2 separate regions of the Homo sapiens genome follow, and region 2 is linked to region 1. The links come from fine-mapping of genetic effects on gene expression. A gene starts in region 1. The other region holds a variant in brackets. All regions are shown on one strand. Distances are between the middles of the regions.

The links.
Region 2: its variant is fine-mapped to the expression of GNPDA1 in whole blood (INTERVAL, PIP 0.95).

What each region holds. Positions count from the first base shown.
Region 1 is chr5:142,008,570-142,017,247 of GRCh38, forward strand. It overlaps GNPDA1 (glucosamine-6-phosphate deaminase 1), which reads right to left and starts at 4,458. Exons shown (of 7, transcript NM_005471.5): 1 at 4,426-4,458; 2 at 3,343-3,472. The coding sequence starts at 3,466. RefSeq lists silencers at 3,583-3,642, 4,314-4,583 and a cis regulatory region at 5,725-5,997.
Region 2 is chr5:142,092,489-142,101,166 of GRCh38, forward strand. LOC105378204 (a long non-coding RNA gene) reads right to left here. Exons shown (of 3, transcript XR_944368.3): 2 at 5,631-5,820. Among named protein-coding and RNA genes, the nearest start is that of NDFIP1, 12 kb to the right of the region's middle. The variant C/T (reference allele first, on the strand shown) is at 5,420.

The sequences.
Region 1 (8,678 bases):
TACACAAAGTAGCTGGGCATGGTGGCATGTGCCTGTAATCCCAGCTACTCGGGAGGCTGAGGCACAAGAATCACTTGAACCTGGGAGGCAGAGGTTGCAGTGGGCCGAGATTGCACCACTGCACTCCAGCCTGGCCAATAGAGCCAGACTCTATCTTGAAAAAAAAAAAAAGTCAATGTCATAAAAACACACACACAATAAAAGGTAGGAGGACACTGTATATTAAAAGACTAAAGATGCATGAACCCTGACTGGACACTGAATTAATTTTTTAAAAACCAACCTATAAAAGATAAATGTGGACAATTGAGAAAAAATTGTGAACACAGTTTGCATATTAGATGATGGCATGATTTTTCATTTTCTTAGGTATGATGGTATCATGGTTGTGTAGGAGAATGTCCTTATTCTCAGGAGATATGTGCTGAAGGATTTAGAGATAAGTGTCAGGATGTCTGGAACTTATTTTCATGTGGTTCAGAAAAAAAAAGTGTGTGTGTGTGTAGATAAAGAACAAGAGCCAGAGAAAGGTAAAAGCAAATGTGGCAAAATGGTAACAATTGGTGAATTTAGGTGAATGGTATTGACCTGTTTTTTTCCTCTTTTTTGAATATTTGAAATTTTGCAAACTAAAAAAATGAAAGAAAAAAAACCCATCGAGATTACGTCATGTCACCCCTCTTTTCAAAACCCACCAATAGCTTCTCATTTCACCCTCAGCAACACCAGTTATTCTAAGGCTCCACAGAACCTGGCCCCTGGCTATGAGACCCTCCCTGCCACCATATCCAACACTGCACAGCCCCACCCCTGCCGACACACTCCCTATCCTTTCCTGCTTCATGTTTCTCCTTTCCTCTTATCACCATCTAACATACTCTATATTTTGCTAATTATTATGTCTCTCCCATTATAATTTAAGCCTCAGAAGGCAGAAGTTCATATCCTTTTTGTTCATTGCTGTATCCTTAGAGGCTAGAACAGCTTTGCATACAGAGGGTACTCAATAAATACCTGCTGAGTGAATGGCAGCTCCCCGCAGCCCACCCAAAATAATTAGTTGGTCCGTGTGACAAGGCCTTAGCTATGCCTGAGCCACATAGCTTCCTCTCTCCTGCCATTTTCCAAACTTCTAGCCTTCCCATGAATTCTCTGAACTTCCCAGTATCTAGCCAATAAACTCCTTTTCTGCTTAATTTAGCTGGAGTTGGTTTCTGTGGTTTCCACTCAGAACCCTGACAGGTGCTACATCTAACAGAAGCAATGTTCCAAGGAACCCGTGTGGAAACGCTGTCCTGTTGGTTCAAGCAGGACAGGCAGGGAGAGGCCAGGTTTTGGAGGGCCTTGAATGCCACTCTGAAGAGCTTGGATCTGACTCTGCAATGATGGGAACGAGGGAATGGTTTCAGAAGGCCAGACTCTGACCCATACAGAGGTTGGGTCTCTCCACAGTTAGGAGACAGGATGTTAGCACAGCCTCCGAGGGCCTGAGACATTGGTAGTTTCACAGGCACAGGTGGATACTACTCCCACAAACCTCTAGTGCAGAACTCAGCAAACTTTGGTCCACAGGCCAAATTTGGCCTGCGGCCTTTATTTTTTATTTTTTTAGACAGAGTATCGCTGTCACCCAAGCTGGAGTGCAGTGGCACAATCTCAGCTCACTGTAACCTCTATCTGCTGGGTTCAATTGATTCTCCTGCCTCAGCCTCCTGAGTAGCTGGGATTATAGGTGCCCGCCACCATGCCCAGCTAATTTTTATATTTTTAGTAGAGGCAGGGTTTCACCATGTTGGCCAGGCTGGTCTCAAATTCCTGACTTCAAATGATCGACCCACCTCAGCCTCCCAAAGTGCTGGGATTACAGGCGTGAGCCACCACACCCGGCCCTGTGGCCTGTTTTTATACAGCTTATGAGTTAAGAATGGTTTTCTTTTCTTTCTTTTTTTTTTTTTTTTTGAGACAGAATCTTGCTCTGTCACCTAGGCTGGAGTGCAATTGCACAATCATGGTTCACTGCCTCGACCTCCTGGCCCAAGCAATACTCACACCTCACACCGTAGCCTCCTCAGTAGCTGGGACTACAGGCATGTGCCACCATGCCTAGCTAATTTTTCTATTTTTTGTAGAGATGGGGTTTTGCCATGTTGCCCAGGCTAATCTCAAACTCCTGGGCTCCAGCAATCTGCCTACCTCAGCCTCCCAAAGTGCTGAAATTACAGATATGAGCCACCATGCCTGGCCTGGTTTTTACATTTTTAAATAGTTTTTTTTTTAATTAAAGAAGAATAATATTTTGTGACATGTGAAAATTATATAAGTTCAAACTTCAGTGTCCATACAGTTTTATTGGCATACAACCATACTCATTCACTTATATATTGTCTTTTCTTTTTTTGAGACAGGGTCTCACTGTCACCCAGACTGGAGTACAGTGACACAATCATGGCTCACTGCAGCCTCAATCTACTGGCTCAAGCAATCCACCTACCTCAGCCTCCCAAGAAGCTGGGACTACAGGTGAGCGCCACCATGCCAGGCTAATTATAGCTGCTTTCAAACAACAGAAGGGTTAAGTTGTTGCAACAGAGACTATATGGCTAGTGAAGTCTAACATATTTACTACTGGCCATTTACAGAAAAAGTCTGGACTGCAAGGAAGACCAAAAAAAAAAAAAAAAAGGAAAAAGAACAAGTTTGAAGACCCCTCCAACACACACACACACACATAGACACGCTAATGGATGGGTCAGGTAGGGCCACTAGGGCAAACCCATCCATCTCTGAAAGAAATAATCAGGACATTTGTCTTGAGGAGCTGGGGTCAAAATATCTTTCTGAAAAAGCAACATTTTGATTTTTTCCAAAAGAAATTAGAACTGTTTTTTATTTAGGTCCTGTGTTTAATTAAGCCTTACAGAAAATTACCTAAGTGACTATCTTTTCAATTCTCCCAAGGATGGTACTTAGCTGGTACCCCTCTAGATGCAGAGAAGAGAAATTAATTCATTACATAAAATGAATGCCTTAGGGTATCAGGACTTAATTCTGTTAAGAAACCCTGGTGGACAGGGCTGACTTAGGATGTAGCCTAAAAATCAAATTCTTCCTGCCAACCAAGATCCCTTCTGCTCCAGGATTCTGCAGGGACAGGCAGCGACTAAACCAACCCATAAGGGAAGCTGGGTCCTTTGTATGTGGAAGGGGCAGGAAGGTGCTCTCTCAGCACCAGTACCCCAGAGCCCCCGTGAAGTCCCTTGGCTGAGTGAGCCGGTGTACCTGGCCCCTGTTGCCTACTCTCTCCACCCTTATCCACGGCACCCTCTCCATCCAAGAACGCACCAGTGGGGAGCCCCAGGGTGAAGTACTTCTCTGGCCCTGGGTTAAACTGGATGATGCGGTTCCTGATGTATTTAGCCGCCCACTCGCTCGCCTGAGAATAGTGCTCCAGGATGATGAGCTTCATCTTGTCCTGCAGTGGGGGAGAGGGGATGACAGAAAGGAATCAATGGTAAGGGGCAGAGAAAGAGATGGAGGTGGTGGGAGAAGCTTCTCTTACCCAGCAACAATCCCCTTCCCAAGCTGTCTGAGCCAGGAAAAAGGCCTTTCTATTCACAGAGGAGCTAAGAGGCTAGGCCAGTCGTCTCCACCACCCACAGACCACGAGGAGGCGCCACTGGGGGCAGATCTGGGTTCTAATCTCAGCTCCTTCACTTACCACCTGCAGGACCTCGGTCAAAGGACCTAAGTTCTCTCTGAGCCGTTTCCTCCTATGTAAAAATTGGGACAATAGTACCTACTTCACAGACTTCACGACGGGTAATATGAAATGAGAGAATGCATGTAAACAACTTAGTATTTTCTACGTTGGCTGTTACCATCCAGATAGATGCTCGGCTCAGCCCCGCCTCCCTCATCCCTGCCCCTACCGGAACGGGATACCCTACCCCCTCCCCGCCGTCTACCCCAAGACTCTTCCTCCAGAAGTAGAGAGGTCATGGGATCATGCTGGGCCACTAGAGCAGGTGGGGCAATGAGCTCTGCCTGGGGAGCTGTGTGCTCTCTCTGGACTAGCGGAGGGGTCTTCCTACTGGCCCACCTTGCTTTGCGAACCCCTCTGGGTCTTCAGTTTCCCCCAAAGCACAAAAGGGAAAAGGTAATCGCTCCAGAAGGAGGACATTTTGTTCCCCCAGCACTGCGGTTAGTGGGAGTGTGAAGGAAAGAGGCGAAGGTGGCCCGCGCGGTCGTCGGTGGGGTACAGCGTGTCCCCCACCCCCATTACCACCCCATCGCCCCTCCGATCCCTCCTGGAAAATGTGTGAGGGCGGCTCCCCGGGGTCCCGACCCCGAGTGCCGTAGGGCTGGGGCAGCGCTCCGCGCTCCGGCCCGCGAGGAAGGTCCCCGCCAGCCCTGCTACCCACTTACACGGACGCCTCCCGCGGCGGCTGCAGCGACTGCGCCGGCGGCCCGGCCCCGCGCGGGTCACGTGGCTGCGGGTCACGCGGCGCCGCGTGCGCCGCCCGCCGGGCTGACTCAGCTTGGCCGCAGCTACCCGGACCGACTCTCCCAGGTGGAGGAGTTCCGGCCACTCAGTCCCACCTCGGTCCCTGGCCCCGGCAGGCCCTGGAACAGACCTTAAAAAACACTTTCCCTTGGGAGGCGGGGATTCGAGTCTGGTTTGTGTGTGTGTGTGTGCAAGAGGAGGGAGACTTGAGGGGCGCCGGGTCGCCCCCAGGAATACAACCCCCTGGACCTTGGGGCTGGGGCCGGGGGGTTTTAGTGCAGGGGTTGAGCTGGGGGCAGGCAAAGCAGAATCGCTTCCTCAGTCTCCTAGGGTTGGGCCTGGCTCTGCCTTCAGTTTCTTTCTTTGTTTAGATGCCATTTATTTACCCAAGTATTAAAACTTGTGTTGTTTAAAGTACAATTGGGCTTTTTAATGTCCTTTTTTAAAGATCAAACTTTGCAGCATTATATAATAGAGAAAAAGGCAGGCCCCTGGTTTCCCCAACTCCCCACACCAAGATAACCATTGCTTAGTTTAAGAGTACATTCTGAATTGCTTTCTTTGAATATGCTTACACTGTTATTTTACATAAATGGGAACACATACACATGAGGCTTATATATATCAAGGCTCGGATATTTGACCTGCATTATTTCACTTAATCCTTATTAAGCTCCAGTGAGGTAGGTTTGCCGTTACTTTTTAACAGGTGGAGAAACTGACGCTTGGAGAGAAAAATTAACTTGGCCAGAGGCACAAGTGGTTTCCCTTGTGCCTTCAATTCAGGGGGATCTGTCCAAATCCAAAATCCATGCTTTTTACCGCTAGCGGGCACTGCCTCCCAGCTGGTATGACTGGATTTGGGACGCTTCCATATCAGAAAAAGAGATCCATCTTATTCTTTCCAGTCAACATTAGAGTGTTCCAGACTTCTAGGGACACTTGGGAACTTTCCATGCGGAGGCTGGAGGAAGGACTTGAGTGCTGGTCATCAGTAACATCTTCCATTACATAGGGTTTTGCCAGAGCTTTGTGCGCATTATTTCATAGAATCCCGCCCAATCGTCAGATATGATTACCGCCATTTTATTGATGTGGAAACTGGGGATCAAAGGCGTACAGAGACTTGTGATATATGACCTCATAGTCTGACATCCCGGACTTTAGTCAGTGCTAGGGAGCAGTGGTGAGACCTTCTGAATCAGCCTAGTTTTCCTCCAGCAGCAAAAGGCCAAAGGAATCCTGGCTTTATGCCCACGGGACAGGGCCTTCCTCAGTCAGCCGGGTGGCCACGTTCTGCAATTCTGCTGAATCTGCTCACTGTGGACAGCCCCAGGCGCTCACCCAGCCCTTGGGCCCAACTGCAGCTCCAGACCAGCTTGCTAGGGGTAGGCTTCATCTGGTGAGGCCCTGATGAGACCAGATGGTGGAGCTGATACCTTTACAGTGTGGGGGACTTGCTCTTTGCCTCAGTGTTATTTTGTTTTGTTTTGTTTTGTTTTCCAAATCCTGAGAGGCTGTGAATGGCTCGGTGTTGGTGTAGTTTTTGTTTATTTTTAAATTCAGTCAGAAATCTTTTTTTTTTTTTTTTTGAGATGGAGTCTCGCTCTGTTGCCCAGGCTGGAGTACAGTGGTGTGATCTCTGCTCACTGCAACCTCCGCCTCCCGGGTTCAAGCAGTTCTCCTGCCTCAGCCTCCCGGGTAGCTGGGATTACAGATGCCCACCACCATGCCCAGCTAATTTTTGTACTTTTAATAGAGATGGGGTTTCACCATGCTGGCCAGGCTAGTCGTGAACTCCTGACCTCAGGTGATCTGCCCGCCTTGGCCTCCTAAAGTGCTGGGATTACAGGCATGAGCCACCGCCCCCAGCCAGAAATGTTGTCTCAGCTTGAGGACTGCAGATGTTTCACAATGAAGCTCCAACTCCAATCTCCGATCACGTCTGATAACATGGGCCAGGTCTGCAGCATCTGCATCCAGACCTTTCCAGGAGGAGAGTGACTGACTTCTGGTGACTAAGCCCATTTCCCCTGAGTTACCCCTTCTGCAGGGAACCAGTGCAGGGTCTCTGCGAAGCCTGGAGGCTCTTGGATCAGCGTGGGGACTAATCGGAAAGACCTGCATTTCAATTCTGGTCTGGCTAATTTCTGGTTATTTAGTGAGTAATTCAAGCAAATGACTCAACTTCTCCAGGTCTCAGTTTTCTTACCTGAAACATAAGAATTGAGTGGAAATTAAGTAATACTGCCCTCGTGTGGCTGTTGTGACTATTAAATGAAATATTAGCATAGCATGGCATTCACAGCCAGCTGTTATTACTTACCCCTTATTTCCTCCTAACCCTCCTTACAGCCCACTCTCTAACCATACTGAAATGCTCTCTAGCCCTAACCTCCTGACTCCCTGTACTCCTCCTACTCCACATCTGTGTTTAAACTATTACCCACACCTATCCTCCCATCCTCTTGTCTTGGAACTAAAGTTGCCAAATTAAAAGAATTGTGAGTTTATCCATGCAATGGAACACTCTGCAACTCTTGTATGGTCAGATATTTTTATACCTTCTAATGCACCCTTGCTTTGGGCAAACAACCTGACCAGATGTTACCTCCCAAATTCTGCTCAATTCATAGAGTTTGTGTGGTGCTGGCCCTACCCTTTGACTTAGGAGCAAACCAATTAGAGACTCCATGGCTCTGGCCATGATTAGTTCAAGGCCAGGCAGGCATGGAAGACACTAACCCAGCAGCCATTCAGAGACTCCTTCTCCCTTGCTGCTTCCCACTGGAGAAACTGGAAAGTCAACGACTCTCACAGCTTCTCCCACAGCTACGGGGTGGCCAAGTAACTTCATTCTGCCCAATGAGGGAGGAGGATGGCTTCTGGTTAGATATTTTACTTCCTGAGAAAAGTGCTGTGCTTGAGAAACAAACTGGCGGTTTCTGGTTCCTTCCCTTTCCTTCCTGCCTTGAAGGCAGTTGTGATGACTGAAGCTGGGGAGGCCACGTTGTAACTGTGAGGCACCAAGCATAAGGATAGAGTGGAGGAGGGAAAACACTTATGTCCTTGATATCTGACTAGTGCTGGGACCTCCTACTTCTGGACTTCTTCTAAGTAAATGGTAAATGTCCTTATGGCTTAAACTTTAAATCATTGTTAGGAGAATTTCCTGTGACTTGAAATTGAAAACATGACTCACTGCTAGAGCAGGTGATTCAGATCTTCCTTAGGGTTTATGCCACTACTGGGGGAAAATACACTTCTCCTGAGATCTTGAGCCGTAAAACAGAGGAAAGCTTAGAGCTACAGAAAGGTACAACAAATAGAAGAGAGACACAGAACTCTGATGACATCATTTGAGCCCCCTAGAATAGCATGTCTGAAGCCAAATATACCCTTTTGGGTTTCGTGGTTGAGTGAGTGAATGAGTGAATACATAATTAAATATCATTTTCCCCTGAAGCTAGTTAGAGGAAATTCTGGAAGGATATTTTATTAGTTATCTATTGCTGTGTAACAGATTACCCCAAAACTTAGTGGCTTAAAACAACAATAATGACTTATTTCTCACAGTTTCTGTGGGCTAGAAATTCAGACAGGATACAGTGGCGATGATATCTTGCCCCTCAACTGAAAGACTCAAATTCTGGGGCTGGAATCGTATGAAAGCTCATTGACTCACATGTCTTGACAACAGGTGCTCACTGTCAGTGGAACACTCACACATGGCTCTCCTTGTTGCCTGGGCTTCCTCACAACATAGCGGTGGGTTCCAAGGGCAAGCGTATCAAGAGACAAAGATGGGCTAAGGCTGTATCCTTCTTCTGACCTAGTCTCAGAAGTCATATAGCATCACTTCTGCTGAGCTCTGTGGGTTGGAGAAATCACAAGCCCCTATCCAGATTTAAAAAGAGAAAACATAGACCCCCATCTCTCTGTGTAAGAAGTTCAGTAATATTATAAGAAGAGCATGTTGGACGGGATACATGTACAAGTATGGCCATGTTTAAAAAATACAATCTGCCACAGACACACACTAACTTGTTATTAAGATGTGATCTGGCCAGGAGTGGTGGGTCACACCTGTAATCCCAACACTTTGGGAGGCAGAGGCGGGCAGATCACTTGAACCCAGGAGTTTAAGACCAGCCTGGCCAACATGGTAAAACCC
Region 2 (8,678 bases), 84 kb after region 1:
AAAGAAGTGGGGGGCCAAGCACAGTGGCTCACGCCTGTAATCTCAGCACTTTGGGAGGCTGAGGTGGGTGTATCACTTGAGGTCAGAAGTTTGAGACCAGCCTAGGCAACATGATGAAACCGCGTTGCTACTAAAAATACAAAAATTAGCCGGGCATGGTGGCACGCGCCTGTAGTCCCAGCTACTGGGAGGGGGTGGGGGTGCTGAGGCAGGAGAATCGCTTGAACCTGGAAGGCAGAGGTTGCAGTGAGCTGAGATTGTGTCACTGTACTCCAGCCTGGGCAACAAAGCAAGACTTCTTCTCAAAAAAAAAAAAAAAAAAAAAAAAAAAAAGGAAAGAAAGAAAAGAAAAAAGGTGGGATTCCAGAAATAAAGGAGACTTTTAAAATGGTCATTTAACAAATGGTATGGAATCCAGCTAACCATTAAAAAAAAAAAATCTGGATTACTAGCTTCCTTACCCCTAAATAAATTACTTGATCAGATATGTCCGTGTAAAAAAGAAACCATAAAAACACTAAGGAAAATAGAGCTAAGTATTTTTGTGATTTTGGGGGTGAAGACCTTCCTAAGCCTAAAAAAGAAAAAAAAAAAAAAAAAAAGGAGGGATACATTTGACTACATTTTAAAAATGTTCCCAGGTGCGGTGGCTCATGCCTGTTATTCAAGCACTTTGGAAGGCTGAGGCGGGTGGATCACTTGAGGTCAGGATTTCGAGACCAGCCTGGCCAACATGGTGAAACCGTGTCTTTATTAAAAATACAAAAATCAGCCAGGCATTGTGGCACATGCCTGTAATCCCAGCTACTTGGGAGGCTGAGGCAGGTGAATTGCTTGAACCCAGGAGGTGGAGGTTGCAGTGAGCTGAGATTGTGCCACTGCACTCTAGCCTGGGCGACAGAGTGAGACTTTGTCTCAGAAAGAAAAAAAAAAAAAAGCGAAAGAACTTCAATATGGCAAATAATGCTGCCGAGTAGACTCAAAGACAAATGATAAGCTGTGAAAAATATTTGCAATAAACAAAGGGTAATATTCCTAATATATAGAGAATGCTTATAGATCAAAGACTAATTATAAAAAGATATAAATAGGCGTGTGCATTGGATTAGCAAAGATTTTTCTCTCTTTTCTTTTTCTCTTTTTTTTAAATTTTTTTTGAGACGGAGTCTTGCTCTGTCACCCAGGCTAGAGTGCAGTGGCGTGATCTCAGCTCACTGCAAGCTCTGCCTCCTGGGTGAAAGGGATTCTCCTGCCTCAACCTCCTGAGTAGCTGGAACTACAGGCGCCCGCCACCACGCCTGGCTAATTTTTTAAATATTTTCAGTAGAAAACACGGGTTTCACTGTGTTAGCCAGGATGGTCTCAATCTCCTGACTTCGTGATCCACCCTCCTCGGCCTCCCAAAGTGCTAGGATTACAGGCATGAGCCACTACACCCGGCCCCTTTCTTTTCTTTAAAATAGAGACAGGGTCTGTGTTGTCCTGGCTCATCACAAACTCCTGAGCTCAAATAATCCTCCCACCTTGGCCTCCCAAAATGCTGGGATTATAGGCATTAGCCACCACACTCGATCAGATTAGCAAAGACTTTTTTAAAATTGCCAATAACCAATGTTGGTAAGAGTGTGGAAAAATGAGTACTGGTGTGCCCTGCTGGTGGGAATATTAATCAGTACAATCTCCCTGGAGAGCACTTTAGCAATGTAGATCAAGAATCTAAAAAAGTACTATATCTGAAAAACAGTAATTTCATTTATAGATATCCATTTTAAGGAAATAATCAAAGATGGACAAAAAAAATTTATATATAAGGAGGCCGGGTACAGTGGCTCATGCCTGTAATAACAGCACTTTGGGAGGCTGAGGTGGGCAGATGATTTGAGCCCAGGAGTTTGAGACCAGCCTGGGCAACTTGGCAAAACCCCATCTCTACTAAAAATGCAAAAAATTAATCGGCCATGGTGGTGTGCACCTGTAGTCCCAGCTACTCAGCAGGCTGAGGTGGAAGGATCACCTGATGAGCCCAGGAAAGTCGGGGCTGCAGTGAGCCGTGTCTCACTACTCACTCCAGCCTCGACCATGGGAGTGAGACTCTGTCTCAAAAAAAAAAAAAAAAAAAAAAGAGTACTCTGGCCTTCTAAAAATAGTGCTTTTCAGGAGCACAGTGATTCCCAGGAACAGAAACTATCACCAAAGTGACCTCTAGTTTATGGTTGGGGGAAAGGAGGGTGGCAGAGAGTGAGCACAATAGAAATGGGCCCATCTTTATTTTTTGTATTCAAACAATTGTTTACCTTCAAACTATATTCACTATATGTGGACAGCAAATGGAGTCTTTTAAACAGAGAAAGCTGCCAATGGAGTAAGAATTAAATATCTATTTATTGAAGGAGTGAATACATGAATAAAATAAAGATAACTGAAACACTTCTAACATGACAAAGTGTTCAGTGGAGCTCAAGCATTGCATGGTACTGGCGAGAAGCTAGCAAACACGTCTTTTCTTAGTGTTGAGACCAACTCCAGGTTAACAAGGTACAGAATCAACTGGGAGAGACTCCCATGGGTGAACAGGCTCTTTTTCTTTGTCTCCTCAATTCTGCTGGCTTGCTTCAAACTCAATTTTAGCTGGTGTGAGCCCAGCCCAGCTTCAGGCCTGCTCTCTGCAATCATTCTAATGTCATCTCAGCACACAAGGAGTTACCCACGGAAAGCCCACACCAGGAAAAACTTCCCCGAGTTTCTGTGGCCGGAAAATCTGTGTCACCAGAGGTATCACTAGAGAAGTCTCCCTTCCACCCACTGCAATTTTGAAGAATCAGGGAACACATGCAGAGACACATGATAGTTCCTGGTATCTGCAATTTATAAAACACATTTATATACATTGTCCCATTTTGCCGATCTTTAGGAGGTGAAAGACCAGGACAAGACCCACATCCTTTTCCCTGAAGTCATTCTGCTTTAGAGAAAGCAATTTTTGTCAAAGCTGATATGAAAGGTCTTTCCTTCCTGGCAAGAGACACTATTGTCCCTTCCTGAAGAAGGAAGTCTAGTCTTCAGGTAAGAGGAAGGTATATTCTTAGGCAGCTGCTGGGTTGGAAGGAAGGAACAGTGAAGTCTGTGTTTTGGAAGGGAGGAGGGAGTGACATTTTTAAGTTACAAGCCTCTTCTGGGAGAGCTGGGGACAGATCTATTTTTAGATGTGTTCCCTGACACCCAGGAAGAACTCAAAAGGTAACCAAGCACTTGGCAGGTTTCCTGAAAAGAAAGTTGTTAAGGGCTAGAGGGACTCTGTGTGTTCTGAGGCACGAAGTTTGACTTCAATCTGATGCAGTGTGTTGCCCGCCCCGCCTTTTAGCATAGTTTGGTTGCAGGATGACAGAATACTTGGGGGTGGCACAAACCCTCAAATCATGAAAGGCTAGGCCGCAGACTCACAGAGAGCTGGATGATGTGTGCCACCCTAAAACCACTTCCTGGGTGCGTGATTATGGGCATGTGACTTAACTCCTTTGAGCTCAGTTTCCTCATCTGTAAAATGAAGACTCAAACCAAATAAAGTCCTCTTAGCCCTAATCTTCTAACAACACACACACAGGCCAGGCGTGGTGAGTAATCCGTGCACTTTGGGAGGCCAAGGTGGGTGGATCACCTGAGGTCAGGAGTTCGAGACCATCTTGGCCAACATAGTGAAACCCCATCTCTACTAAAACTACAAAAATTAGCTGGGTGTGCTGGTGGACACCTGTAATCCTAGCTACTCAGGAGGCTGAGGCAGGAGAATCACTTGAACCCAAGAGGTGGAGGTTGCAGTGAGCCAAGATTGTGCCACTGCCCTCCAGCCTGGGTGACAGAGTGAGATTCCATCTCAAAAAATAAAAATAATAAAACATAATAATAACAAACACAAAATAACCTCCATATGACCTGTTCTTTCACTCATAGAACAGAGATAGAAGTAGACACTACCTCATGTGTTTATTTTAATAAAAAAAGATGATAAATATAAAATTGTTCGGCACAGTCCCTCACTTAAAGTAACTGCTCAAGTCATGTGTTATTCAAACAGCATTCTTGGGACTCATGACGTCAGAGGCCCCTTGTTAGGGCATTGAACAATAAAAAATGTGCCTTACAACTTTTTATGGTGAAATACATCAAGGAGAATGTAACCTGGTGTTCTGGAGCAGCTATAAACTAATCTGACCATGCTTGCTGATGAAGTGATACTGGCTCACCAGGTAAAGGCAAGAGGGTGTTTGGTGTGTCGAGAGCCAAAAACACAGCCTCCCTCAGCCATGAAGCAGGTGGCCTATTATTCTGCTAGAAATGGAAATCCAAGGTTTTGTGGCCTGTTTTGCCATAAGGAACTCAGGAAAGGCCTCATTGCCAGGTGGTGTCTTACCTTGTACCCCGATTCTTTTTTTTTTTTTTTGAGATGGCGTTTTGCTCTTGTTGCCCAGGCTGGAGTGCAATGGCTCGATCTTGGCTCACTGCAACCTCCGCCTCCTGGGTTCAAGCAATTCTCCTGCCTCAGCCTCCCAAGTAGCTGGGATTACCGGCATGGGCCACCATGCCTGGCTAATTTTGTATTTTTAGTAGAGACGGGGTTTCTCCATGTTAGTCAGGCTGGTCTCGAACACCTGACCTCAGGTGATCCGCCCACCTCGGCCTCCCAAAGTGGTGGGATTACAGGTGTGAGCCACTGCGCCCAGCCACCTTGTACCCCGATTCTTTCATAACAGTGCTCACTCCAGGGGAGGAAGTTGACACGGAGAGGGGCTTGTCTTTGCTGCTCTCTGTGGGTTTTAGTTACTGAAGATGTGACAAAGGACTGTCCCAACTTGGGGATAAGGTTAGGGAGAAGTTATGAATAACTGGGCCAGGATTTCTATTGTACTTAAAAAAACTCAGCAGCCAGGCATGGTGGCTCACGCCTCTAATTCCAGCACTTTGGGAGGCCAAGGCAGGTGGATCACCTGAGGTCAGGAGTTCGAGACCAGCCTAGCCAAAATGATGAAACCTGTCTCTGCTAAAAATACAAAAATCAGCTGGGCGTGGTGGCTCACGCCTGTAATCCCAGCTACTAGGGAGGCTGAGGCAGGAGAATTGCTTGAACCTGGGAGGCGGAGGTTGCAGCGAGCCAAGCTCGTGCCACTGCACTTCCAGCCTGGGCAACAGAGCAAGACTCTGTCTAAAAACAAAACAAAACAAACAAAACAAAAACTCAGGTATTATTTTCTGGTCCTCGTGTAATCTTATTTAGAACTAGAGATTCTCTTGTACTTTGCCTGAGGCCTGCTGAGTCACCTGAGCAGAGCTCCCTGAAGACTTGTAGTAACCAGCGTGCATGCCCACAAGCTGCTGCTGAGTGCAAGCCAACACGGCTTCTTCCACTAAGGGCCCCTGAGGGTCA[C/T]TTCTCTTCTGCGTCATAATTAACACATATGCGTCTCCCCTGACACACTGCAGAGCTCCTAGCTTTAGCATTTCCCGTGTGCAATCGTGTTTCTGCTGATACTCTCTAAATACAGTGAGAAAACTACCGTCCTAGGAAATGTGAGAACCCCTTGACTTATCTTACGAATCAGTGTGGGAGCTTGGAGAAGTGAAGCACCTTCTCTACTCACCTTGTTCTCTTTTCAAGGCACTTGGTTAAGACAACTGGTTGGAACATTGTGTCCAAAGATGAGGTTCAGAGACTTCATTTCCTTGTAGATGAACACTACGCTGTTCCTCATTTCTTGGCCACCCACAACACCTTGTAAGGGAGGAAAAAATAATTTTCCTTCCACCCTTCTAAGTTATCTGCTGGGGCTCCTGTAACAAAAGACAGATTAACAAGAGAAAAAACAAACAGAAGTTTACTAACGTGTATCTTGGCTCATTCCTGTAATCTCAGCACTTTGGAAAGCCAAGGTGGGTAAATCACTTAAGTCCAGCAATTTGAAACCAGCCTAGGCAACATAGCGAAACTCCATCTCTTAAAAAAAAAAAAAAACAAAAAACAGAGAAAGAAATATTTTTTTAAAAAAAAGAAGAAGAAGAAAAACAAAAGAAGTTTACTAACAGGTATATCTCATATAAACCTGGGCAGTCAGGGAAATGAGTAACTCTCAGAGAGGTGGCTTAGAATTCAGGCTTAAATACCATCTTCAGCTAAATCAGTGAAAGAATTGTGTGGTGGAGGTAAATTATGAGAAGGCAACCAGGAAATGTACAGTAAACAAGGGTAAGCTTTGTTATGCAGATATAAGTTGGTGCCTTCTCCACTGATAAGAATTTCTTGTGATTTAGAATATCTTTCTCTTCCTAGTACAGAGAAAGACATCCCTACACATGGAGATTTCCTTTATAAATGTAAATTTCCCTTTCAAATGGGAAACTTCTCTGTTTTCAGAGATTCTCCCATGTCTGCTATTTCCTAAAATAATTGGTTCAAAATAATCCTTATGCCAAAGAAGTATATTTTGGGGTAGCATATTCTGTTCTTTTACAATCCCTAAATATACAGTGAACACTAAGCCATTTGTCAGAGGAGGAATCACTTAAAGATTTTATGGAGTCACTCTTATAGGAGCCTAGGTTGTATATTACCCAATGCAGAGTGTGTGGTTGGGGAGAGGGTGTTGTTTGCATAGACTGCAATGTGATGGATAACCTGGAGTTGGACAGTACACAATTTGCACAATCAGATGTGGCAGCCCATGGGGACTAACTATAGCATCACTCCTGGGAAGGGGAAATTCCCAAACTTAAAGCATATATTCTGTTTAGGATGGAGGAGTTTGTTTGGCATATTTATAATTGAATGTTAGTGACAACCCTTGGAAGGAATTTCTCTATTGTTCTTGGTATCATCTCTTGTTTTATTTAGCTCAGGGTCACTATCAATTGTATAACCAATCAGGTCTCCATTTTAATTGGATGCCAAGTTTACGGTACACTTGTAATGTATAAATTCATTTTTGTGTTAACCTTATTCTTGGTGTTATTTTAATTCTATGAAGAACTATTATGGGACAGGCCCTGTTCACATGGCAACAAAAGTGAACAAGAAGACAAAGTCTATTTTATGTTGCTACTCTTGTTTTGCTTTTTCTTTCTCATCTACTTCTAATTTGTGATTTCTTGCTATACAGTAACCTCCTAAATCCTTTCAGGATCAAGTGCATAAAATAAGTGGATATTATAAATATATATACACCTAAAAATAGAGCAGCAAAATACACAAATCAAAACTGACACAATTGAAGGGACAAATAGACAATCAATAGCAGTAGTTGGAGACTTCAACAAACTGCTTTCAATACAGTGAGAACAACTAAGTAGAAGATCAATAAAAAGATAGAAGTCTTTTTTTTTTTTTTTTGAGACAGAGTATTGCTCTGTCGCCCAGGCTGGAGTGCAGTGGCATGATCTCAGCTCGCTGCAACCTCTGCCTCCCGGGTTCAAGCAATTCTTCTGTCTCAGCCTCCCGAGTAGCTGGGACTACACATGTGTGCCACCACTCCCGGCTAATTTTTGTATTTTTAGTAGAGAAGAGGTTTCACCATTTTGGCCAGGCTGGTCTCGAACTCTTGACCTCATGATCTGCCCGCCTCAGACTCCCAAGGAAATAGAAGTCTTACACCATACTATAAGCCAGCTAAAGCTAATAGATACCTATAGAACTGTTGGGGCTCAGAAAATAATACACCAAAATATGGCGTATTATTTGAATACTGAGCACTTTGAATTAAAGGAAATTGAAAGCCTTAGAAGTGACCTCAGAATCAGTGTCTCTCTGACCTTCTCTTGTTTCTCCCCACAAGGGTGGGGACAGGCTCTCTCTGAAGGTCCCTTATCTCATTGAGGGAAGTTCTTTCAAAATAAACACAATTGTCTTTAATCCACTGTTTAAAATCTCATTGCCAGCTGGGGCACAGTGGCTCATGCCTGTAATCCCAGCATTTTGGAAGGCTGAGGTGGGCGGATCACTTGAGGTCAGGAGTTCAAGACCAGCCTGGCCAACAGGGCAAAACGCCATCTCTACTAATAATACAAAAATTCACCAGGCATGGTGTTGGGCGTCTATAATCCCAGCTACTCGGGAGCCTAAGGCATGAGAATGGCTTGAACTCGGGAGGCGGAAGTTGCAGTGAGCCGAGATCATCCCACTGTACTCCAGCATGGGTGACAGACTGAAACTGCATCTCAAAAAAATAAAAATAAAAATAAATAAATAAATAAATCTCATTGCCTAGGGAAGATAAATCAGGAAGAAGAAACAAAAGGTTGTCACTACACCCACCCAAGCAAACTTATCATATTGCCTGAGAGACCTTATTTGCATACTAAGACAATATTTGCATTGCAGTTCTGTCCCCTCACCTTCCCATAACTTGTCACCACCTTCCCCAGAGCTCAGAGGACCTTTGTCCCAGGCTATTGTCTTTTCTTTGGGCCCATTCATCTCCCCTAAAAATTACTTATTCTTTGTATTAGTCCATTTTCACATGGCTGTAAAGAACTGCCCATGACTGGGTAATTTGTAAAAGAAAGAGGCTTAATTGACACACAATTCAGCATGGTTGGGAAGTCCTCAGGAAACTTACAATCATGGCAGAAGGCAAAGGGGAAGCAAGGCAATGCTTCCCCACAAGGCAGCAGGAAGGAGAAGTGCTGAGCAAAGGGGG